Linked DNA regions of Homo sapiens: region 1 is linked to region 2. Evidence: fine-mapped expression QTL. A gene starts in region 2. The other region holds a variant in brackets. All regions are shown on one strand. Distances are from middle to middle. Region 1 overlaps SMARCA4 (SWI/SNF related BAF chromatin remodeling complex subunit ATPase 4). Region 2 holds the start of SMARCA4 (SWI/SNF related BAF chromatin remodeling complex subunit ATPase 4).

The links. PIP is the estimated chance that this variant, and not a neighbour inherited with it, causes the effect.
Region 1: its variant is fine-mapped to the expression of SMARCA4 in whole blood (INTERVAL, PIP above 0.99).

Annotation. Positions count from the first base shown.
Region 1 is chr19:11,014,450-11,031,112 of GRCh38, forward strand. SMARCA4 (SWI/SNF related BAF chromatin remodeling complex subunit ATPase 4) reads left to right here. Exons shown (of 35, transcript NM_003072.5): 17 at 4,508-4,574; 18 at 5,142-5,252; 19 at 7,276-7,518; 20 at 9,069-9,182; 21 at 9,882-9,989; 22 at 10,973-11,059; 23 at 11,851-11,897; 24 at 13,335-13,501; 25 at 16,281-16,444. Among named protein-coding and RNA genes, the nearest start is that of SMARCA4, 62 kb to the left of the region's middle. RefSeq lists an enhancer at 13,695-14,195. The variant G/A (reference allele first, on the strand shown) is at 6,955.
Region 2 is chr19:10,955,542-10,964,461 of GRCh38, forward strand. It overlaps SMARCA4 (SWI/SNF related BAF chromatin remodeling complex subunit ATPase 4), which reads left to right and starts at 5,489. Exons shown (of 35, transcript NM_003072.5): 1 at 5,489-5,633. RefSeq lists silencers at 5,217-5,636, 5,687-5,746, 5,797-5,856 and an enhancer at 8,374-8,503.

The DNA.
Region 1 (16,663 bases), 63 kb after region 2:
CTTGTGCACAGCGCTGCAGGTAGCTGCACCTCCCCTCGTGGTCAGACCCAGATTGCTACAGCGTTCCTGCTGCACCTGCCTGAGCTCTGTCCCCTGTCTGTGTCTGGAGGCTGTTCCTTCCGGCTCTGCCCACCTCCTGGCTCCCCTCTGCCCTTCTTCCCCTGGAGGCTGATGGGTGCAGTGGCAGTCGCCCTCTGCAGTTCCCGATTTTCCCTCCTTTCACTTACAGACTTCTCAGATCACCATCTCTGCTGGAACGCCGCTCTCCAGGGTGCTGTTGTTTTGCAGCCTTGGTTCTTAGTTGTTAATTTTTTGCTTTAAAAAATTTTTTTAAACTTTTCATTTTGAAATGATCTCATTTATTTTTATTTTTTTTTATTTTTTGAGGAGTCTCGCACTGTTGACCAGCCTGGAGTGCAGTGGTGCCATCTTGGTTCACTGCAACCTCTGCCTCCTGGGTTCAAGCGATTCTCCTGCCTCAGCCTCCCGAGTAGCTGGGATTAGAGGCACGCGCCACCATGTCCGGCTAACTTTTTTGCATTTTTAGTAGAGACAGGGTTTCTCCATGTTGGCTAGGCTGGTCTTGAACTCCTGACCCCATGATCTGCCCGCCTTGGCCTCCCAAAGTGCTGGGATTACAGGAGTGAGCCACTGTGCCTGGCGACCTCATTCTTAGAAAACATTGTAGAGTTAGTGTAAAGAATTGCTATGCACCCTTCACCCATCTTCCCCATTCTTTCATAACCCCAAGACAATTATGAAAACCAGGAAGATAACATGGACGTAGGACTAATAGCAAACCAGAGGCCTTATTTACCAATCTTGTCAGTTTTCTCACAAGTGGCCTTGCTCTGGTCCAGGATCCCACACTGTCACGTCTGTGTGGCATGCCTGTGGCAGTTCCTCATTTCGTCTTTGTCCTGGTCGAGCTTGACGCTGTTGAATCCTGATCGGACCTTTGGTAGACTCTCCTTCAATTTGGGTTTGTCCGATGTGATCGCGTGGAGCAACACCACGCCCTGCTTGATGTGCCTTAGCGGGGAAGGCATGAGATGTTGAGGCCTTGGTGTCTCGGGCAAGGTGCCTGCTGGGTTTCCCACTGTAAACCTAGGAGTTACACTTTCCGTTAATAACTGTCTCGTGGGAACGTACTTCGACACTTGTGAATATCTCATTTCTCTTCCTACTTTCCTCAATAATTTCAGCATCTCTTCTACTCCATTTCATGTTGCCATAAAGGAATACCTGAGACTAGGTGATAAAGAAAAGAGGTTTAGCTGGGCGCGGTGGCTCACTCCTGTAATCCCAGCACTTTGGGAGGCCGAGGCAGGCGGATCACCTGAGGTCAGGAGTTTGAGACCAGCCTGACCAACATGGTGAAACCCTGTCCCTACCAAAAATACAAAAAAAAATTAGCCAGGCATGGTGGCGCATGCCTGTAATCCCAGCCACTCAGGAGGCTGAGACAGGAGAATCACTTGAACCTGGGAGACGGGGGTTGCAGTGAGCCAATATCGTGCCATTGCATTCCAGCCTGGGCAACAAGAATGAAACGCCTTCTCAAAAAAAAAAAGAGGTTTATTTGGCTCATGATTCTGCTGGCTGGAAGACTGGGCACCTGGTGAGGGCTTCAGGCGGATTCCACTCCTGGTGGAAGGCAAAGGGGAGCCAGTGTGTAGAGATCCCATGGGGAGGGAGGAGGCGAGGGAGGCGGGGGTGCCGGGCTCCTTTTAACCATAGCTCCCACGAGAGTTCAGAGAGCAGGAACTCATTCATCCCCCATCCCCAGTACAGTACAGGCCGTTCACGAGGGTTCACGAGGCCGTTCACGAGGGAGGCCCCCATGACACAGATGCCTCCCACCAGGCCCCACCTCCAACATTGGAAATCAGACTTCAGCATGAGGTTTGGAGGTGCCAGATACCCAAACTATAGCAGCAAACGTCAGATAAGTCTTGCCTGAAAAAATAATTACATGAGAGTTGCCAAATACATGGTTACCTGTTTCTGTCCGCTCTTCTCTACAAATTAATTGGAATTCCACCGTTAGGAAGAGCTTTCCCGTCTCCCCCATGTGCTTGTTTGGGTAATTATTATATCAGTGTGGGCGTGAACAAATATTATTTATTTTGTTGCTTCAGTTTTTTTCAGATTTGGCCTGGGAGAATTCTCCCTGGAAGAATTGTGTCTTCTCTATGTATTCAGTCATTTGTTAATATGAGTATGGACCCACGGATATTTATTTAGTACTCCAGGCTACGCACCAGTGGCTGGGTTTTTTTTGTTTTGTGGCTCAAATCCATCCAGCTTTGGCCACTGGGAGTGCTTTCAGTTGGCTCTTCTGTCCTTTGACACGCCCCCAGCATCGGGTGAATTTTGAGGACTTTCTTGCTTTTTGGCACCAAGAGATGCTGCAGGCTCATGTAGTCTATTTCCCGCCCACTCCCTCAAATCAGCCATTTCTCCAAGGAGCCCTGGTTTCCCTTCTTACAGAATGGTTTTGGGAACCAAGACCTGGGTCCTGGATGGGCCTGTTGCTTCTGGGGTGTCATTGCTCCTGGGGCCCTCTCAGTGGTCAGTGCTAGGAGATTCATGTGCGCGTGCTGATGCTTTGTGCACGTATCGTCTAAAAGGCCTTCTCTGCCTCGGCATCTGTTTCTGTGTTAAGCTGAACGTGAGTTCATACCACTGTCTGCGGCTCTGAGTGAGGACCACAGGTTCCTTCTCACACTTCCACCCTGTGTGTGCGCCCATTCTCAGCTTCCGTGGACAACAGTTTCAGAGTAGTGAGCCGGTACCTCCGGGAAGCATCTTGAGCCACTAGAGCGCAGGCCTTGGGGCCAGTTCCTTGTGTGTTCAGACCTCCAGATTGCAGTCAGATTCCATTTCCAGGGTGATAGAGGTCACCTTCTTCCCCTACTTCAGTGAGGTTGTGAGGTGGGTGCTCCTGCAGTCTTTCCCACTGCGCCCCACCTGGGCAAGCGTCCATGCTGTGGAACGCCAGCTCCTGCAGGCCAGAAGAGGGCCCGCGCGCTAGGAAATGTTTACGGCGTATGGGCATCCGGCTGTGCCGGCCCTCTCACTGGGAATTGCTGCCTCCTGCCATGAGCTGCTTGTCCTGCCTCCGTTTGGACCTCTGTCTCTGGGACCTGTCCCCTCAGTCCCCTCCTGACCCTTGCTCCTGGCTCTTCTCCCTCCCAGTGCAGATGCTCCGCACACCTCCGGCTTCTCCCTTGGTGCGCTGACTGTCCCCATCACTCCAGGGAGGTTTCACTGTTCCTGAGTCAGCGGAAGCACAGGGTCAGGCCCTACGGGCCAGGTCCGGTGGCTCCAAGATGCCATCAGGGACCCAGCCTCCCCCAGGTTTCTGCCCAGTCATTCTTGGGTGACTCCAACCCTCAGGCTCCTTACCTCATGGTTGCAGGACGGCTGCACTGCCTCCCTCGCCTCATGCAGGAGAGTGGGCAGGAAAGAGTTCTAGGAGAGTGGGCAGGGCAAAAGGCAGCAGAAGCGCAAGGCTGCTGAGCCTCTGCTCCCCACGCTTCTTCAGGAACTCTCCCCAGCCTTCACCACAGCCATGCGTCCTTCTGTCTATTGGCTGTGCCGCCTGGTTGGCTGTGGCTTCCAGCGGGGCTGGAGATGGGTTCATGGTGGACACAGCACCTCCCTCGTGGAGCTGCTTGGGGGCAAACCACGAGTAGTCCCTGGGACTCCAGCTTCGAGCCCTGTCTTTACGGACCACCCCGTCTAGACTTTCTGAGTGGCTTCCCTCCCCCACTGAAAACTCCCTGCCCCAGAGTTCCTCCCAGAGCCCGTCCCCTTTGGGACTCAGCTTTATTACCGCCTCCACCCTCTCCTCAGTCTCTAGGCTGTCGGTCTCAGGTGACTCACCCCTCCCCACTGCATTCTGCCTGCCCCCATGTCCTCCCTCATTCCAGCCCTGGTCATCCCACAGGGGAACAGCCACGAGTTGCCGCTCCCTCCCATCCCTGTCCTCCCGCCTGCCACCTGAGCCAGGCCCCGCCTCGCCCCTCACTGTCCTCGTTCTCTCTCACAGTCAGGAACCTTCCGTGGCTGGAGGGTGGCAGAAAGACTGTTTGGTGTCTCCTATATCCTCAGGTCTCCACAGCACTGTTGCTAGCCTGGCTCTGGGCGTGAAGCCTGTGCTCTGAAGCTGCATTTTCCCGGCAGCAGGTCCAGGCTTCCCCAGCCCTGGCAGCATTGTTTCTGTCCCCCATCACATCTCTGTGTCCCTACTTCTCACTCTAAAGGGCCTTGCCCTCTTTTCCCAGTGGCCTCCCTTCTGTCCTCTGAGGCAGAGCCCTTCACGTCCTCGCCAGTCTCTCTTCCTCCCTCCCTCCCTCAGCTGCCCTAAACACAGTTTCTCTGCCCACTCGGAGGGCTGTGGCCATGTTGGCCTCGCCCCTGACAGCCAGTGGCTATGGGTTTGCACAGTGAGCCATTGATGAGAGACCGGCACTTGACTCTCATTTCCTTGTTCCATCAGAACGCTGTCCAACTGGGCGTACGAGTTTGACAAGTGGGCCCCCTCCGTGGTGAAGGTGTCTTACAAGGTAGGTCACAGCCACTGAGGTTTCCTCTCTTGCTACGGAGGTGCAGGCGGTGGTGGGCAGGACGTCCACACATACCTCTGGACAGTGAACCTGAGAATGCTGGGTCTCCAGTCGCATGGAGTCTCCAGGACAGCCTGGAACTCCAGTCACATGGATCCGGGAGTTTGGACTGGGCAGGGACAGGGCAGATTAGCTCACTGGGGAGGAGACAGGAGTGAGCATGGTGGCCAGCACTCAGAGGCCAGCTCAGGCGCCTGAGATGGGGACCCAGGAAGAGGGGAGCCTGTCAGCCACCAGGAATGTGCAGATGGCGGTGCAGGCTGCGTGGTTCCCTCAGGCCCCGGCCGCCGCTGGCCTGCACTGCTTCCTCTTCCCCCTGCAGCGCGTGTTCTGCGTGGTGAGGTCTGGGGACGCGCCAGCGGCCCTGCCAGCCCCTTTCCCCACTACCCCTGTGAGGACGAGCCCTCCCGCCGTGTCACTGGGCAGTTGCAGGGGGTGCCTGTGCCCCTCTTGCCACCTGGCCACCCGGCTCCAAAAGCCGAGCTGTGCATCCTGCTTCCCTTGCAGGGATCCCCAGCAGCAAGACGGGCCTTTGTCCCCCAGCTCCGGAGTGGGAAGTTCAACGTCTTGCTGACGACGTACGAGTACATCATCAAAGACAAGCACATCCTCGCCAAGGTAACGTGTCCCTGTGGGAAATGCCAGGCCATGGGCCGAGTGCTCACACGTGGGTCACGCTGCCCGTCTCCTCCAAAGCCCCTACAAGTTTCTTCCCGGAGTCCCACCTGCATGTGCGTGAAGACAGCTGCCCTGTGTAGGGGAAAGGCCTAGGTGGGGGCGACCTCAGGTTTACCTCCCTAACTGTCTCCAGGCAGGCCCTGAGTCAGGCCCAGAAGCTGGGGCCATCTACACAGCATGCGCTCTGCCTCCTCTCGGGCCTTCTGCCCAGAGAGCCTCAGCACCAAGGCGTCTCCTGACCCGCCTACAGAGTCCCCATGGGGCCTTGGCCAGACCAGTCTTGTCCTCCTGTCTCATTGCCTTGGCCGTCCCTCCCTGGGGCCCTGGCTTCTCACCACAGGCCATGGGCTGAGATTCAGCATGTGGGGGAGAGCTCGAGGGCCAAATACCATGACTGCCTGCTGGCCTTGGGCAGCTGGTTCGGGCTGTTCTGTGAGGGTCCTACTGTCCTGGAAGCCTCTTCTGGGACGAAACTGTGAAGGGAGTCCCAGCGTGGCCATGACTGAGAATACGGCCCAGATAGAAAACAGACATAGCCCTCTGCCTCCAAAAACTCATGTTCCTCATTTGAGGAGGGGTAAAGATGTACCTGGTCTCACCCCTAAACATCCAGCTGAGTGAGTGTTGAACAGTAGAGAGTTTTTTGCGTTTTGGTTTTTTTTTTTTTGAGACCGAGTCTCGCTCTGTTGCCCATGCTGGAGTGCAGTGATGTGATCACAGCTCACTGCAGGCCTGACCTCCTGGCCTCAAGCGATCCTCCCACCTCACCCTCCTGAGTAGCTGGGACTACAGGTGTGCGCCACCACTCCCAGCTAACTTTTTTAAATTTATTTTTTATGGAGATGGGGTCTTGCTGTACTGCCCAGGCTGGTCTCAAACTCCTGGCCTCAAGGAATCCTCTCGCCTTGGCCTCACAAAGCACTGGGCAACTGTGTCTGGCCTAACAGTAGAGTTCTTGACCCAGGTATGGGGGGATGGAGGAGCTGTTTATGGGTGGCTCCGCCTCTCAGTGCATGGCTGGAGTGACAGTACTGGAATACTGGGGCTGTGAACTGGGTGTTTTCTTTTCTTTTTCTCTTCTTTTTTTTTTTTATTGAGACAGAGTCTCACAGCTGTCACCCAGGCTGGAGTGCAGTGGAGCGATCTCAGCTCACTGCAACAACCTCTGCCTCCTGGGTTCAAGTGATTCTCCTGCCTCAGCCTTCCGAGGACTGGGTGCTTTATCCCGGAGCCAACAAGGGAGGAAACTGAGGCCCAGGGAGCTGGGTATCCCACGTGCAGGCTCTTACCTCAGGTCCATGCTTCAGGTGCCTCCTTTGTGGCTCACCCCTGCTGACTCCTTACAAAGCCAGGCCGTTGGCAGGCACAGGAACCAGGCTCTGAAACCCCGTGCTCCCCTGCCAGTGGCTCAGTTGATGTAATCACCCTGCAGTGGGAGTGCTCTTTGAGTGCGGCCACTGCGCCCCCTCCCGACCCGCATGGCCCTGTATGTAGTGGCGCTGGCCCCTACCCCATGGGGCCCACATTCTGAACCACAGGCTGCTCATTAGAAATGTACCGTCACCAACCCAGTTCCCCTGAGACCCTCCACACCAGCAGGACAAGTCCCCCAGTCAGCAAGATGTGTCTTCTGCCAGAACGT[G/A]CTCGGCATTTTTCTGTGCTGTAGATTCATATGTGTGATTTTGCAGGGAAGCCAGATTGCTTTTTTGCAATTTGCATTGTTCACCTGCCAATAGTCATGGGGTCACGGGCCTGTCTCTGCCCAAGGCTTGCAAGAGGCTACGTTGTGTGGCTCCAACTCGGTGAGTCAGCCCCGGGGCAGGACGTCAGGCCTGTGCTCTCCACCCAGCTGCGCTCTTCCACCTGGAGCCTTCCTGGCTGCTGGGCGCAGAGTGGGAGATTCTCCCCATGTGCCGGGCCACCTGCTGCCCCCTGCCCTGATTGCCCACTCTGGGGCCCGCAGATCCGTTGGAAGTACATGATTGTGGACGAAGGTCACCGCATGAAGAACCACCACTGCAAGCTGACGCAGGTGCTCAACACGCACTATGTGGCACCCCGCCGCCTGCTGCTGACGGGCACACCGCTGCAGAACAAGCTTCCCGAGCTCTGGGCGCTGCTCAACTTCCTGCTGCCCACCATCTTCAAGAGCTGCAGCACCTTCGAGCAGTGGTTTAACGCACCCTTTGCCATGACCGGGGAAAAGGTGGGTTTGCCCAGCTGTGCCCATGCTGACGGTTCCAGGTGCGGCTGGCTTTGCTGGTTGGAACGTGTTGAGCACCAGCTACAGCTGGCTGGGCCTGTGCTGGGTGCCTGGTGAGAGTCTGCATCTGCATGGAGCAGGGGAGCCCTGGAACCCAAGGCTGGGGCAGCCACAAGGGCCCCAGGGGAGCAGGGCAGAGGTCATGGTGGTGAATCTCGGAATGCTCGGGGCGTCTCTGACCCTATGCTCCAGGTGCAGAGTGGATGGTGAGGAAGATGGCCCTGAGGCAGCTGTGGGACCGCAAGCGTGTGGAGAGCACAGCTAGAGGCTGTAGCGTGCTGTAGGCCCCTTTAGGTGCCCTCAGAACTCACCCTCAGGGCAGTGGGAAGGAAACTTGGAAGATTCCAGTTAGCGGGGCCACATGGTCAGGTTCTGTCTTACGTTGTTTTCAAAAAGCTCAGTGGCCAGTGTGTCTCAATGTCTGGGTGGCACCATCAGCCAGACTGTGGCATGGCAGCATCATCATTGATGAGTGGTCCCACACCAGCACTGATCCCTGAGCCTAGAGCTCCTTGCTGTTGGAGGTTGAAACTGTGGGACAGACTGTGTTTCCTGCTGAGGGGTTTAAGTAACCAGATGCTGAAGTGTGGGCAGAACTACAGAGGTTACCTCGAAGTGCCCTGCCCAGCACGGCTGGGCCCACCCCCTTCTTCCCACCTTAGACAGGTCCAGGGCAGCTGGGGCCTTCCTGGCCTCATGCGTGAGTTCCCTGCCCTCTCGGCTGCTGGTCAAGGCAGAGACTCTTCTGATGGCGAAACCGAGGCATTCCCCAAAGCCTCGTGATAAAGGAGTCCCCAATTTTTAGACTCCCGGGACCCCCACACTAAGGGCCAGGATCTGATGCTATAGTTTTGTCACTTTCTGAGCCGAGCAAAAGCTCTGCCAAAGGATTGCCAGGGAAGCAATAGAAGAAAAGTTTTGGCGTCGTCTCATTTTCCTTTAACTTTTTTAATTAAAACATTTTAAAAGTTAATTATTAGTAGAGGAGTAGGCGCCGTGGGAGGTCAGGGTTTCTTTCACCTGGTTCCACCCAGGCTGAATGAGAGTCCCTTGGGGCTCCCGGTGGCAGAGCCCTCCCTGAGAATCACCCGCTATAAGCCCCATGTGGTCAGCCTGGCCCCTGCAGCGCTCCTGGCATGAGCTTGGCGTGGGGTGGGTCTGTGGACACTCCAGTTTGTGTTACTCGTGGAGAAGCAGCATGCCCGCTGCCGGGGGTCTTTCTGGTGAGGCACAGGGAGCAGAGTGCTCTGGGTACTGCGGTTCCATGTCCCAGGAATTACATGGAGGGAACCAGATCCTCACAGTTTCCTAAGGAAGAGGGTGCCCTGCCTGGCTCCCAGAAAGCATAAAGCAGGCTGAAAAGCCACGTGCCAAGGGCAAGATCACCCCAGGGGACCCCGTCCACCCTGTCCCCACATCCGCACCTTCTAGTGAGACCTCTGTCGCCCTCCTTTGGAGGTAACGCTTGCTTCTCCTGTCTTGGGGGCTTCCAGGTGGACCTGAATGAGGAGGAAACCATTCTCATCATCCGGCGTCTCCACAAAGTGCTGCGGCCCTTCTTGCTCCGACGACTCAAGAAGGAAGTCGAGGCCCAGTTGCCCGAAAAGGTGATGGAGTTTTGAGGGGAGCCACCAGTGAAGCAGCCTCACGTGGGGGCTTTCTCCAGGGCTGGGCGTGCTCAGGGCCTCTCCCCACAGTCCCAGGCCTGCCCTGGTCAATCCAGCTTGGGGGTGGCGATGACGCCACTGGGTCTGTAAAGCCCTGTGCTGCTGTTGTAGGGATTGAAAAGCACTCATAGGCTCACATAGCTCACAATAGGTTAGAGCACAAAATCCCACTTCCTGTCAGGGGGCCAGGTGCCTGTGCGGGCTCTCCTGGCCACATCAGGAGGGGCCGTGGGCTTGGGGTTGCCCCCCGGCCCCCCATCATGGCTCTGGGTTTTCAAGGCCTGCTGCAGCCACACCCCTGGGCCCAGTTCCCACAGCAAGACCCATGGACTCGGGGTCCCCGGCTGCAGTTGTCCCTCTTGGCTCTTTGTTTCCTGGCTGGCTGTAGAGAGGCCCCCAGAAGATGGCTGGGGGGCCCTTTCTGGCCCAGTAACCCTCTGGTATCTCTGCCTGGTGCTTCCTCTCATTGCCCAGGTCTCCCCTCTTCTCCCCAGCTGTGAGGGTCTCCTCACCCACACCCCAGTGTGCTCTGGTCAGAGCTCATATGACAGGGCCGAGGGGGTCAGAGCTGGGTTCGGATGGGGGGAGTCAGGCCTCAAGCCACCTTGGGCCCTCGTGAGCATTATGTGTCCCCTGCAGGTGGAGTACGTCATCAAGTGCGACATGTCTGCGCTGCAGCGAGTGCTCTACCGCCACATGCAGGCCAAGGGCGTGCTGCTGACTGATGGCTCCGAGAAGGACAAGAAGGTGGGCCCCAGAGTCCCCCAACTGCATTCCCCACTGGGTGTCCAAGGCCGGCAGCGTGGCAGGCAGAGCAGAGCGTGCTCTGACCATCGGGTCATGATCTGGTCATGATCCCCAGGGCATCTGGCCAGCCCTGGTTATGATGGCTGGTGGCTTGTGTCAGGACACACTGACTCAGCTGCCAGTGGCTTCTCCTTTGCCTATGAAACACTGGCTCCTTCTGCAATTGGCAGCCTGGGCCCAGCACTAACCCCAGCAGGGTTAGAGTGTTCTAGAATGCCCCCCTTCTCTGTTATTAAGTGAAAGGAAGGGAGCGGGCTGTCTCCTGCAGGGGCTGCTCTGAGAATCCCAGGCCCCAGGCCCCACCTGCCTGGCTCTCCTCACCAGCAGTGAAATTATCCTCCCAGGAAATGCACCAGACCCCTTGATTCTGCCCCCAAGGCCTTGACCTCGGCCTGGCTTCCCCGAGACGTTGTGTCTGTGCCCCTTCTCCCCTGAGCTGAGCAGCAGTGTGTTCCCTAGTCCATTCCCAGCCCAGAGCATGCACCCCCCGCCCCGCCCCCACCTCCTTCCTCATCCTGGAGCCCAGGGAGCCCTGAGTCATGGCTCACCCGGCTGAGGCCCTCTTGCCCAGCTGAGACCCTCTAGGGACCCCCACAGTAACAGTGCCCAGAACAAAGCTGGCATCACAAAGCATCGGGGACTCTGCCTCAGCCCTTTGCCAGTCTTGTTTCCGTCCCGTCCTGCTGGCCCTGTCCCTGCCATCTGCCCTCTGCTGTGCCAGGCAGTCATTTGTTTCCCAGGGCTTGTTGGGGGCCTCCGGGCCTCCAGCCTGCCATCTCCTCACTCCCAATTGCTGTGCCAAAAGCCACTCTTCCCCACTAGAGCGTCCCCATGGCCCTTCTCCCAACACCCACCCATCCACCAAGCCCACCCCACCCCAGGAGGGCAAGACCCCATTTGGGTCCCTCTCATCTGCCTTCCAGGGCAAAGGCGGCACCAAGACCCTGATGAACACCATCATGCAGCTGCGGAAGATCTGCAACCACCCCTACATGTTCCAGCACATCGAGGTGAGCCCGCCGCGGCTGGGACGGCTCAGGCCCTGCTGTCTGCTGAGCTCCTAGGCAGAGCTGGCTTCTCCTCGACAGCTCTTTAAAAACAGACTCGAATATTTTCATTAGGTAATGCCTGTACATCTGTCTCTCATTTGGTCTTCGCTTCACCAGTGCTTACGGGAAGAATCCCAGCAGTTAGGGCGCAACGTGCGATAGGAATATAGGGCCCTGAAAGCTTGCCCTCAGAGAGCAGGAGCGTTTGGAGACTTCTCTGGGGATGTGTCCCCCCACAGTGGGGTCCTGCTGCGTCTCTTTGGCTCACTGGCTTTTCTCACGTTGCGGGGCGTCAAGAGTCACCACCGTCTTCAGTGAAGTGTGGGGGAGTCAGAACCCTTTTTGGTCATGGTGGCTTTGAGAATCTGGGTTCTTAGAAGCATGCATATGTTCGTGTTTCTTGGTGTAAAGTGTCAGGGTCGTTGGAGACCGCCTGCTGCCCCGAGAGCCCCTGGGGCTGTCTCAGCACCCTGAGCGTGGCTGTGGCCCCATGACGTCCTCGTGCATTCAGGGTGTGAAGAGTGCTGTATGGGATGTCCTTTCCTTCGTTGGAGGAGTGTGAGGGAAAGGATGTCAGTGGACTAAGAAAGATGGTTTTGGCATCTGTGTCTGGTCTCAGAGCCGCCGTGGGCCCGTGCCGAGCACACAGTGTGGGGGCTTTGTCCTCTGAGCACGAGCGGTGTGTGCGGACCGCAGCGGGGCCCGGTGGCCTGCTCCTGCCTGTCACTGACCCCTCTCTCCTTGCCTTGCAGGAGTCCTTTTCCGAGCACTTGGGGTTCACTGGCGGCATTGTCCAAGGGTGAGAAGCTTCCCAACTGGATGGGGTGGGCAGGTGGTCCACCCAGAGGTTTTCTGTCGTTTTGTTGGCTTTATTGCTGCTGTTATGTTGTCCAATTTCAAAGGCAGAAAATTAGAAAATACAGAAGAATCCAAAGCAAATAATACAAATCTTTTTTTTTTTTTTTTTTTGAGGTGGAGTTTTGCTCTTGTTGCCCAGGCTGGAGTGCAGTGACACAATCTCGGCTCACTGCAACCTCTGCCTCCTGGGTTCAAATGATTCTCCTGCCTCAGCCTCCCGAGTAGCTGGGATTACCGGCACCTGCCACCACCCAGCTAATTTTTTGTATTTTTAGTAGAGATGGGGTTTCACCATGTTGACCAGGCTGATCTTGAACTCCTGACCTCAAGTGATCCACCCGCCTTGGCCTCCCAAAGTGCTGGAATTACAGGTGTGAGCCACCGCGCCCGGCCCCATTATACAAATCTTTAGTGCTTGGAGAGCTGACCACTATTAACCCCAAGAGACAGGATTCCTGAGGCAGACCTGGCTTACAGATCCCACTCTGCCGCCTCCAAGCTCTGTGACTCTAGACAGCTTTCTTAACCTCTCTGAGCCTAAACTCTGCTCACTAGTACAGAGGCACTCTTTACATCATGTGGGTGTTTTCTATAGCACCCTTTGTAAGGGGCAGCCCAGACTCCTTTAAGCCCCTAATGGATGTGGATGCTGTGTCTAGATTTTCACCATTGCAAAGAACCTTGCTAAAAGCATTCTTCCAGCTAAAGCCTCCATTCAATTCCCCTGGGGTAGTAAGCCATTTGCAAGAAGAGAGGCGCCTAATGAAAACATCACAAATTCTTTTTGATGTGTTTTTTTATACTGAGTTGTGGAACAGGGTCCTGTACACCTGGCTTCAAGGCTGGGAGGCCTGGCTTGGACATGTGGTCAGCCATATCACGTCGTCCCCCTGCCAGCCTCAGTGTCCACATCTACAACACTTGGGGTTTGGCTGGAGAGAACATGAGAAGCCGAGGTGGCCCTTCCTTCTGGGTCTAGCAGAGCATGGGTGTCTCCAGTGTGGCATTTGCTCCTGGGGCTTCTTTATCGGGCAAGGGGACAAGGTCTGGCTTCCCGGAGCATCCCTGTTCCAGCCCCGTGTTGTGCCGGCCATGTGACTCACAGCTCCTCTCATTTTCATGAGTGTCTGGGTTTGACGAGAAATACATGTGCCACCCTGGTGATACGCCTCCCCAGCGAGGGTGGCCGGGCTTATTTCAGTTGGGGGAAATGGCTTTGCTGAAGCTTTGGGTGGGTGACGTCTGCTTAGGATGCATGTCTGTGCCCTTGAACCCGGCGCCTGGCCTGGAGGCGGGCGATGCACCTCCTGCCTTACCTGCCTGCAGGGTTCCAGGTTTAACATCCTGCGCCTTCTCTCCTGCCTCCTCCACACTCCAGGCTGGACCTGTACCGAGCCTCGGGTAAATTTGAGCTTCTTGATAGAATTCTTCCCAAACTCCGAGCAACCAACCACAAAGTGCTGCTGTTCTGCCAAATGACCTCCCTCATGACCATCATGGAAGATTACTTTGCGTATCGCGGCTTTAAATACCTCAGGCTTGATGGTGAGTATGAGCCAGTGAGGCGTTTCTTACAGGGTTTTGTTGTTGTGGCTGCCACAGAAGCTCCTCACTGGCATTCCCTCCTGTGAGGCAGGGTGAGGCCCAGGCGCTCTGGGTCCAGTGGCCAGAGTGGGCCTAGCCACAGGCTGAGCATCTTGGGCACTCGGCACTGGGACAGGCCGTGGATTGGACGCCGGGTGTCCTGACTCCTAGGCTGACAGTCTTTCCACGACAATGCTGGGCGCACTGGGGAAGGGGTGCCCTGTGCACTTTTAGCTGGAAGTGACAGAATTCCATACCATGTGGACACAGGAAAGAAAGCACCAATAGGCTTACATAGCTCTAACCCCAGGAGGTTAAACATCCTTCAGGCACAGCTGGATCCAGGCATGCAGGTGATATTGGAGAGACTTTTCTCCAGCTCTTTGCTCTGCCTTCTTCCATCTTGGCTTCCTTTCCACCTGCTCAGTGTCCCCAACAAAGGCAGGTCCCAGGCTGGCTCTCATTTAGCTGCTGTGAGCCGCATGCCCATCCCTGGGCCATTCGTAGCAGCCCAGTGACTGCCACCTTGCCACAGGTCAGGCCTGGACCTGGAATCAGACTCTGTGGTGAGCACGGAGGGAGGGAAGCAAGCACTGCCAGGCAGGAGCAGCAGCTGCCGTAGAGAGGCTCTCAGCCCAACCCCCTGCCCTGCGGTCCCTGATGGGAAAGGTCACCGCCTGTGTTTCTGCGCCTGCCTGCCCCAGCACACGGGAGCTCAGGGAGGAGAGGCTGTGAGATGCCGACAGGGCACGTGAGACATGTCTGTCAGTCCCAGTGGGTCAGGGAGCCCTGGAGTGAGTTCTTCGTGGGAGTTACTAGAACTGGGCTTACGAGAAACACGAGCATGAGCTGCTGAGACAGACACGGCTCAGCCAGTTTGTTGTTCCCTACACGACCTCCCAGAGCCTTTGTTGAAGCTCCTGTGCAAGGTCTGTCTCACAGCAGGACACCCCAGACCTCCATACCCCTTGTCCCGTTGATCACTTGGACCTGTGTTTGCTGGGCCAACCTGCCCAGGTGCCACCCGGAGTGTGCCCTGTGTGTCCCTCCAAACTGCAGGTCCTCCCCGGGGTTCTGTCCAGGACCACTCTACAGACACGAGTCTGTTGCAGGGGTCTCCCCGGCTTGCCTTCTTCCTTGGGGGCTTCCCACTTTCAGCTTTGAGGCTGAAAACCAAAATCCTTCAGGGTCCTCATGGCCGGGCCACCCCCCACCCTTTCCTCTCCTACGGTCTCTCCAGCGGCTTCTCCCGTCCTCGAGAGGGCCAAGGCTTCCTGAGGGCCATCCCGTCTGTGTCGTGTCCCTGACTCCCCCAGGAGAGAGCCTGGTTCCCACCCATCCCAGTGCCCTTCTGCCTACTCCATAAGGACAAGGACTTTGGTCAGTTGAACTACAGATGTGTCCTCTGCATGTGATGTGGTCATGGCCACAGGGCCAGAGAATCCATTGCGAGTAGAGGAAGGGTAGGAGCTCAGTGAAGTCTCCTGAGACTGCATCTCCCATGGGTGGGCTGGCATCTGGGAGCCGGGTGGCCCCTCACCTCAGCCCCTCCTCCGAGCTGGAGTAGCAGGGGCACATCTGGTGCCTGAGAGAGGGTGGGACGGCAGGTGGATGGCCAGGCTACTGTGGGCTTCTGCACCGTGCCTGGGCATGTGTAGGCTGGTGGCAGGAAATGGCCAGTTTTTATTTCTTCTTTTTTTTGAGACGGAGTTTCACTCTTGTTGCCCAGGCTGGAGTGCAGTGGCATGATCTCAGCTCACTGCAACCTCCGCCGCCTGGATTCAAGCGATTCTCCTGCCTCATCCTCCCTGGTATCTGGGATTACAGGCGCCCGCCACTACGCCCAGCTAATTTTCTTGTATTTTTAGTAGAGACGGGGTTTCACCATGTTGGCCAGGCTGGTCTCGAACTCCTGTCCTCAGGCGATCCACCCACCTCAGCCTCCCAAAGTGTTGGGATTACAGGCATGAGTCACCGCGCCCGGCCTGCCAGTTTTTATTTCATCACCAAAATGACTTCAGTGTTCAGGGGCACCTCTGTCCGAACTCCCAGCAGCGCAGGGAGTGTTGACATTGCCTTAATGCCCACAACGCTGAGGGCATCGTGGGTTGTCACCCAGGAGACCTGCTCTGGCTCCTTGACTTGGGTTTTCTGGGGCATGGGGACACTGATCCTGCCAGAAAGGACACGAGCCCCCTTTATAAGGTCTCCATGCTTTTACCGTAGAAGATTCTCTTTGTGAACCACAAAACTTTTTGAGACAGGGCTGAAGGCAGGTGCACCCACAGTCACTGTCCACCCACCCCCAGGTCCCTTGTGTTGCGAGCGGCGGTGTTGCCGGCATTGGCCGCTGTGTCTTCCGCTCCCCATGGAATGGCACAGGGTAGAGTAGAGGAGAGAATCCAGGGCTGTGGTGGTGGTGGCTGTGCTGACGCTGGACGCTGTGGCCTAGCTGTGGGCTGGGTGCTGGACTCTGTGCTCCAGGCCCACCTCCTCTAGTTCTCCCAGCGGGGCCTGTTTTCATTTCTGGGATGTGTGGAGAGACGTTTTGTGGTGAAACACTGGAAATCCAGTTATTCGCCAGTGGCCCACAGGCCCGTGTGGAGAGTGCGGAGCCAGGGATCTGGGGATGCTGGCAGGTGCTGATCCTGCTCCTGCTCTCAGAAGCAGGTGTTCCTTGGTGTCCCCACTCTACCCCTGAGGTCACCCCGCTGACCCTGTTCTCCTCTGTGCCCGTCAGGAACCACGAAGGCGGAGGACCGGGGCATGCTGCTGAAAACCTTCAACGAGCCCGGCTCTGAGTACTTCATCTTCCTGCTCAGCACCCGGGCTGGGGGGCTCGGCCTGAACCTCCAGTCGGCAGACACTGTGATCATTTTTGACAGCGACTGGAATCCTCACCAGGTAAAAGCGGGCCGGGCCCCAGGTCGAGGAGAAGGAAGGGGGTGCCTGCAAAACCTCGAGGAGACGGCCCTGGCTTGAGGGTCCTCCAGCCTCCTCCACATTGTCTTGGACCCCAGGAGCCGGGAGGAGCTGCACCCATATCTCCATAGGTCATCAGGGAGAAAAGAGGCGGGGTCCTCCTGTTTCCCAAAATACAAACAGCCTTTCCCTCTGATTGGG
Region 2 (8,920 bases):
TTTTTGTATTTTTAGTAGAGATGGGGTCTCGCCATGTTGCCCAGGCTGGTCTTGAACTCCTGGGCTCAAGCAATCTGCCCGTCTCAGACTCCCAAAATACCAGGATTACAGGTGTGAGCCACTGTGCCCAGGCACAAGAGGTCATTTTTGATGAATAAATGCACATTTTGTTAACTAATGAGTGATTTCATATTCCAAGGAAGATCTGGAGATATTACTGAAAAGGTGTTTAACTTGCAGTGGCAACTGAAGTCAATGTATTTTACATTTTCATGTTCTGGACTTGGGTGAGTTGTTATTTCAAGCCCTCATCTTTGAGTAAAAGAGAAGAATCCACCTGTAATCCCAGCCACTCAGGAGGCTGAGGTAGGAGAATCTCTTGAACCTGGGAGGTGGGAGGTGGAGGTTGCAGTGAGCCAAGATTGAGCCACTGCACTCCAGCCTGGGTGACAGGGCAAGACTCCGTCTCAAAAAACAAAAAAAAAAAAAAAAAAGAAGAAGGCCGGGCGCAGTGGCTCATGTCTGTAATCCCAGCACTTTGGGAGGCCAAGGTGGGCAGATAACGAGGTCAGGAGATCGAGACCATCCTGGCTAACACGGTGAAACCCCGTCTCTACTAAAAATACAAAAAATTAGCCTGGCGTGGTGGCGGGCACCTGTAGTCCCAGCTACTCAGGAGGCTGAGGCAGGAGAATGGCGTGAACCTGGGAGGCGGAGCTTGCAGTTAGCGGAAATTGCGCCAAAAAAAAAAAAAAAAAAATCCATTCTCCTCTGGGATGATTCCCCTCCCCCACTTCCCGTTCCCTCCTCTCCCCTCCCCTCCCCTGCCCTGCCCTCTCCTCCCCTTCTTTTTTTTTTTTTTTTGAGATGGAGTCTCTGTCGCCCAGGCTAGAGTGCAGTGGTGTGATCTTGGCTCACTGCAACCTTCGCCTCCTGGGTTCAAGCGATTCTCCTACCTCAGCCTCCCGAGTAGCTGGGACTACAGGTGCTTGACACCACACCTGGCTAATTTTTGTATTTTAATAGAGACGGGGTCTCTCTTTTTTTTTTTTTTTTAGAGACAGACTCTCGCTCTGTCGCCCAGGCTGGAGTGCAGTGGCGGGATCTCAGCTCACTGCAAGCTGTGCCTCCCGGGTTCACGCCATTCTCCTGCCTCAGCCTCCTGAGTAGCTGGGACTACAGGCGCCTGCCACTACGCCTGGCTAATTTTTTTGTATTTTTAGTAGAGACGGGGTTTCACTGTGTTAGCCAGGATGGTCTCGATCTCCTGACCTCGTGATCTGCCCGCCTCGGCCTCCCAAAGTGCTGGGATTACAGGTGTGAGCCACTGCGCCCAGCTGAGACGGGGTTTCACCATATTGACCAGGTCTCGAACTCCATATTGACCTTGCGATCCCAGAGAAAGTGCTGGGATTACAGGCGTGAGCCACCGTGCCTGGTTGAGACAGGGTTTCACCATATTGACCTGGTCTCGAGCTCCTGACCTTGTGATTTGCCTGCCTCGGCCTCCTAAAGTGCTGGAATTACAGGCGTGAGCCACTGCGCCCAGCCTGTAGATGTTTTTTTTTTAAAGTCTGGAAGCCAAGGGTGTCAATGCAGACATGGGGCCAAGGTCCCAGGGGCAGTTCATTATTAAGAACTGTGCTCTTAATTGAGACACCTGGCAAATTTTGTATTGCTTTGTAGAGATGGGGTTTCACAATGTTACCCAAGCTGGTCTTGAACGCCTGTCCTCAAGTGATCTGCCAGCCTGGGCCTCCCAAAGTACTGCCATTATAGGCATGCATGAGCTACCACAACCGGCCTGTTTTTCTTTTTTGAGACGGAGTTTCGCTCTTGTTGCCCAGGCTGGAGTGCAACGGCATGATCTCAGCTCACCGCAACCTCTGCCCGCTGGGTTCAAGCGATTCTCTTGCCTCAGCCTCCCAAGTAGCTGGGATTACAGGCATGCACCACCACACCCGGCTAATTTTGTATTTTTTTAGTAGAGACAGGGTTTCTCCACGTCGGTCAGGCTAGTCCTGAACTCCTGACCTCAGGTGATCCGCCTGCCTCGGCCTCCCAAGTGCTGGGATTACAGGCGTGAGGCACCGCGCCTGGCCCGGCCTGTTTTTCTTTACACTATTGCATATTAGTGTGATTAGCATAAAAGACAATTAGAGAACAGTCATACCATCCACTCCATGGGCAGCAACCCTGCCTCCTCCATGCATTGCTGCAGGGTATTCCTAGCTCAATGCTTAGCATTTGGAGAGAGCATAAGAAATACTATTTGGCCGGGCGCCTTGGCTCACGCCTGTAATCCCAGCACTTTGGGAGGCTGAGGTGGGAGGATCACCTGAGCCCAGGAGTTTGAAACCAGCCTGGACGACATAGTGTGACTGTCTCTACAAAAAATTTTAAGAAAATTAGCTGAGTGTGGTGTCCCACCCTTGTAGTCCAAGCTACTCGGGAGGCTGAGGCAGGAGGATCGCTTGAGCCCAGGAGGTCGAGGCTACAGTGAGTACTGATCGTGCCACCGCAGTCCAGGCTGGATGACCCAGCAAGCCTGTGTCTCAAAAACAAAAACAAAAAAACAAAAAAATAACTACTTGAATGAATGAGGAATCGAGTTCAGATCCCACTTCTACTTGCTCACTTACTGTGCACTATTCAATAACACTAGCTGAGGATCAGAGAGCTAGCAGGTGGGCTACCTGCTGTCATGATTCCTCATAACCAAACAGTGGAAGTGGGAGCCATTATTGTTTCTGGTGGGTTTTTTTTGTTTTGTCTTGTTTTGTTTTTGAGACGGAATCTCCCTCTGTCACCAGGCTGGAGTATAGTGGCACGCTCGACTCACTGCAACCTCCGCCTCCTGGGTTCATGCAATTCTGCCTCAGCCTCCTGAGTAGCTGGCACTACAGGCACGCGCCACCACAGCCAGCTAATTTTTGTATTTTTAGTAGAGATGGTGTTTCACCACATTGGCCAGGATGGTCTCAATCTCTTGACCTCATGATCCACCTGCCTTGGCCTCCCAAAGTGTTGGGATTACAGACGTGAGCCACTGGGCCCAGCATTTTTTTTTTTTTTTTTTTTTTTTGAGATGGAGTTTTACTCTCGTCACCCAGGCTGGAGCGCAATGACATGATCTTGGCTCACTGTAACCTCCACCTCCTGGGTTCAAGAAATTCTCCTGCCTCAGCCTGCCGAGTAGCTGTGATTACAGGCACCTGCCACTATGCCTGGCTAATTAATTTTTTTGTATTTTTAGTAGAAACGGGGTTTCACCATGTTGGCCAGGCTGGTCTCGAACTCCTTACCTCAGGTCATCTGCCCACCTTGGCTTCCGAAAGTGCTGGGATTACAGATGTCAGCCACCGCACCCAGCCTTATTGTTTGTTTCACAGGTGAAGAAAGTGAGGTGTAGATGCTCTGGTAAACCTGCCTGGTATTACCCATGCATCACCCAGGTAGTAGAAATGGAGTCGTGTTTTAAACCCAGGTCCTTCTGGGGCCTGGCTTGGTGGCTCATGCCTGTAATCCCAGTGCACTGGGAGGCTGAGCCAGGAGGACTGCTTGAGCCCAGTAGTTTGAGACCAGCTTGGGTAACACAGCAGACCTCAGCTCTACAGAACATAACAGACAAAAAAAAAAAAAAAAAAAAAAAGCTGGTGGTGGTGGCATGTACCTGTAGTCACAGCTATTTGGGAGGCTGAGGTGGATCCCTTGAGTCCAGGAGTTTGAGGCTGCACTGAGCTGTGGTTACACCATTGCACTCCAGCCTGGGTTACAGAGCAAGACCCTGTCTCTAATAAAACAAACAATTAAACAAAAACCCACCCAGGTGAGGTGGCTCACGCCTGTAATCCCAACACTTTGGGAGGCTGAGGTGGGCGGATCACTTGAGGTCAGGAGTTAAAAACCAGCCTGGCCAACATGGTGAAACTCTGTCTCAACTAAAAATACAAAAATTAGCCGGGCGTGGTGGCGGACGCCTGTAGTCCCAGTTACTCGGGAGGCTGAGGCAGGAGAATCGCTTGAATCTGGGAGGCAGAAGTTGCAGTGAGCTGAGATCGTGCCACCTCACTCCAGCCTGGGCAATGGAGTAAGACTCCGTCTCAAAACAAACAAACAAACAAACAAACAAACAAACAAACACACAAAAAAGAAAACACACAGAAGAGGCCAAGAGGCTCAGGGCCTTCACTCTCGGAGGAAGGTTTCTCTCTTTCACCACCAGCCTGTATGCATTCAAACGTGTTCTTTGCAACGACGACTTCCGTGGCTGCCCTATTTAAAATGTCCATGATCCTCCCAGTGTTCACCTCACACTGTACTATTTATTTTTTTTGAGACGGAATTTCACTCTTGTTGCCCAGGCTGGAGTGCAATAGTACGATCTCGGCTCACTACAATCTCCACCTCCTGGGCTCAAGCGATTCTCCTGCCTCAGCCTCCCGAGTAGCTGTGACTACAGGCGTGTGCCACCACGCCCGGCTAATTTTTTGTATTTTTAGTAAAGACGGGGTTTCACCGTGTTAGCCAGGATAGTCTCATCTCCTGACCTCATGATCCACCAGCCTAGGCCTCCCTAAGTGCTGGGATTACAGGCATGAGCTACCGCGCCCGGCTAATTTTTGTATTTTTAATAGAGACGGGTTTCACCATGGTGGTCAGGCTCGTTTCTAACTCCCGACCTCAGGTGATCCGGCCGCCTCGGCCTCCCAAAGTGCTGGATTACAGGCGTGAGCCACCAAGTCCGGCCTCTCATACTGCACTATTTTGCTTATTAATCTTGCTTCTTGTCCTCCTTCCCCACTAGACCGAGGGCTCCACGGCGGCTGGGACACAGTAGCAGATCAATAAATATTTGCTAAGCTAATTAATGGCACTTGGGAAGTTTTGCAGAGAAGGCGGCCACGGTCGGGCCCCGCCTTGCCTCCCCAAATAGGCCTCGCCGCCCCAGGTCAGGGATCAAAGCGGTTCCCAGGCGCGCCCTTGGCCCGCGGGAAACCACTGCCCGGTCTTGGTCCAGGCGGCCCGTCCTACGGTCCAGGGTTCCTATTTCCGAGCCTCAGGGACCTCCTTTCCCCACGGACCCCACGGCCACCGGGATCCCATTCTCCAGTTGCCCCATCGTCACCGCGGCCGCCGCCACCGCCGCCGCAGTGGCGTCCGCTCTGCGCATGCTCCGGGGCGTCAAGACGCGAGGCGTGCAGAAGGCGAAGCGTGCGCAGGCGCGGGGCCATCGCGGCCCGAGTGGGGCGGTGCATCGGACGCGCGTGCTTCCTCCGGGCCACGCCCACCCCCGTCCGCCCAGGGACGGGCGCGCACGCGCGCCGGGAGCGGAAGGGCGGGCTGGCGCGCGCACGAGGCCGGGCAGGCGGCGGAAGCTGGAGAGGCCGCCGCGGTGCTGAGGGGGAGGGGAGCCGGCGAGCGCGCGCGCAGCGGGGGCGCGGGTGGCGCGCGTGTGTGTGAAGGGGGGGCGGTGGCCGAGGCGGGCGGGCGCGCGCGCGAGGCTTCCCCTCGTTTGGCGGCGGCGGCGGCTTCTTTGTTTCGTGAAGAGAAGCGAGACGCCCATTCTGCCCCCGGCCCCGCGCGGAGGGGCGGGGGAGGCGCCGGGAAGTCGACGGCGCCGGCGGCTCCTGGTAAGGAACGCGGGCCGCGGGGGCAGCGCGGCGCGGGGCCGGGGAGGGCGGTTTGAATGGAGCCGGGGCGCCGAGGGGGGAGGGGGCTGCCGGCGCGCCCTGTGCGGGGCCGGGGTACGGCGGCGCCCGAGGGTCAAGAAGCCCAGCCGGCAGCCGCGCGCGTGGGGAAGGCCACAGTGTCGCGAGGCCGTGGCAGCGGCGGCCCCCGCGGAGCGGCGGGGTGGGTGGGGGGCCCGGGCCGCGTGGAGGCCGCGCGATCCTCTCCGCGCGCGCTCTCGCCGGGGTCGCCGGACAAAGCTCGCCCCCCTCGCCCGGCACCCCTACAGTCGCCCTCCCAATTACAGCGGCTGCAACAATAGGCAGGCGTTGGGGCTTTTCTGGCTGCGTGGTAACGGGTCCGACCCGAATGTTGCGTTTTTGGCGAAGCTGCGATCGGGGCTCAGCCAAACCTCCAGATATGTCCGGCGTCGGCCGGACACGGGCATTAGCGGTCCCCTTGGGCTAGCCGACCTCAAATTGTCTTAAAAACGTGTCATTCCAGATTTTCAAGGAAAGGTAAAGGACTCCCCCGATGCCTTGCAGTTAGTGACTTCAAAATGTTTGCCCGAATTGGGGTTGGGGATGGGGTCGGCGGCAAGTAGGGGAGCACGGAGGAAATCCTTTGCTGTGTAAAAGCATTGCTTTTCTTTTGCATCCTTTTTTCTCCTTCCCAATTGGTTTTTCAGATTAAGGCTTTTATTTTCAACGTGGACCTTTTGGGCGAGTGTTTTGTCCCGATCTTGAAGATACCAGTCTTGATTTTTTTTTTTTTTTTTTTTGGTCAGTGACTCCTTGGGGAAAGTAGCAAGGGAATAAGCGGAAAAGCCGCTTCGCAGGAATTTGAAGCAAGTTTTCAGTTTGGATTGATAGGCTGCATTCAAGCTTGATTCCTGGTGCTGTCAGTCACTTAGCACACTGTCACTTTAGGGAAGTGGCTTAACCTCTCTGAACCTCTTAGTTTTCCTCCTTTGTGAAAGCTCCTTTGTGAAAGGGGGTAATCTCCCAAATGGAATTGGTGAAAGCCTGTAAAATGGTTCCTCGCAAGCGGGAAGCACTATTGTAATTGTCTGGTCCAATCTCCCTCATTGTTCAGCAGATAACTTCTTGAGGCCCTACTAAGTGTTGGATGGTCGGGGGTTGGATCCTGGAGCCTCTGCAGTCTTGGAGGGGAGCGGGTGGTAAATGTGGGAACAAACTCTCTTGGCCTATCGTTTATTGCTCTGAACCTGCACTGTGAGAGGGACACAGCGGACAGGCAGGGGATCGGTGGTAGCCAGAGATCACGGGGGCTGCTTGGAAGAGGGGGCCTCAAAATCAGGGAGGGTGTGTAGGATTGTATTTTGTTTTTGAGGCAGAGTCTTGCCTGTCGCCCAGGCTGGAGTTCAGAGTCCCAATCTCCGCTCACTGTAACCTCCGCCTCCTGGGTTCAAGCGATTCTCCTGCCTCAGCCTCCTGAGTAGCTGGGACTACAGGCGCCCGCCACCACGCCTGGCTAATTTTTGTATTTTTAGTAGATATGGGGTTTTACCATGTTGGCCAGGCTGGTCTCAAACTCCTGACTTAAGGTGATCCACCCACCTCGGCCTCCCAAAGTGCTAGGACTACATGTGTGAGCCACTGCGCCAGGATTGTATTTTGACTTTCCCTGGCCACCTCGGACTAGCCATTGTTCCCCTCAGCTACATTCATACATCAACTTGGTCCTTTCCGGTGTAGCTGTCACCCCCAGCACCGTGAGAGCTGGGGTTGTGTCTGCCTGGCTGGCCCCACAGTACCCTGGGCCTGACACATAGTAGGTCTTTAGCGAACTTATGTGGATTGAATGAGGGGGTCCTGTGGAAGATCGCGTGACCATCTGTGTAAAAGGCTTGGTGCAGGGCCAGGTGCAGTGGCTCATACCTGAAATCCCAGCACTTGGGGAGGCTGAGGCGGGAAAATTGCTTGAACCCGGGAGTTTGAGACTAACCTGGGCAACATAGTGAGACCTCATCTCTACAAAAAATACAAAAATTAGCCGAGTGTGGTGGCATGCACCGGTGGTCCCAACTACTCAGGAGGCTGAGGTAGGAGGACTGCTTGAGCCAGAGAGGTGGAGGCTGCAGTGAGCCATTCTTGTGCCCCTGCATTCCAGCCTGTGCACCAGAGTAAGACTGTCTCAAAAAAAAAAAAAAAAAAAAAGAAAAAGAAAGCTTGGTGCAGGACTGGGGGTGGATTGTAAGGGATACAGGTTAGTTGTTTGAACAGTTTTTGCACTTTCCAAGCCATTGTTTCCTGAACCTCAGTTGTCCTCATCTCCCCTACAAAGTGTGGGGTGGTGGTTAGCGTGGGGTGGTGGTAAGGAGTACTCATTCTGGAATCAGACCTCCTGAATTCACACCCAGCTCTCTAAATCGTAGCTTAACCTCAAGCGAGGCGCTTAGCAGTAGGGCCCCCCACTTGTGAAACAGGTAGGACGAGGATGCCCGAAACTTCACAGGCTTCTTGTGAGGGTTGAATGAGGTCACATGGGAAGCCGCTAACACACTGCTGCACCTGATGCGTAGTGAACACTTGATTTTTTTTTTTTTTTTGAGACGGAGTCTCGCTCTGTCATCCGGGCTGGAGTGCAATGCCCCTGTAGTCCCAAGCTCCTTGAGAGGCTGGGGCAGGAGGTACAGGCTGCAGTGGACCATGATTGAGCCACTGCACTCCAGCCTGGGTGACGAAGCGAGACCCTGTCTAAAAAAAGGAATAAAAATTAATTCATGCATAGTTAGGAAAGTAATAAATGGTTTTGCATGGGCCACCTAAAATCATTTTGTGTCCAGCCCTTTAGGAGACGTAAATGTTGATCGTGCAGGCTTTTGAGCAGGGGAGGTGATGTCATCAGAATTGTGATATAGGGCAGTGCAGTGGTCTCTAAACTTCTTGTCAGTGAGGAGCATTCCAACATATGTGTATTTATTTACAATTTATTTGTGTACCTTTGCTTCTCCTTGGGAACCCTCAAAACACCAGGAGATAACCTTAGACCATTCCATGTTTTGGCTGTTTGTGGGAGGTGGGAGCATGGGAGGGACTAGGGTTTTGGGCAGATGTCTGGTGGAACTTTCTTTCTTTCTTTCTTTTTTTTTTGAGACGGAATCTTACTCTTGTTGCCCAGGCTGGAGTGCAATGGCACGATCTCGTCTCACTGCAACCTCTGCCTCCCGGGTTCAAGCGATTCTTCTGACTCAGCCTCCTGAGTAGCTGGGATCACAGGTGTGCAC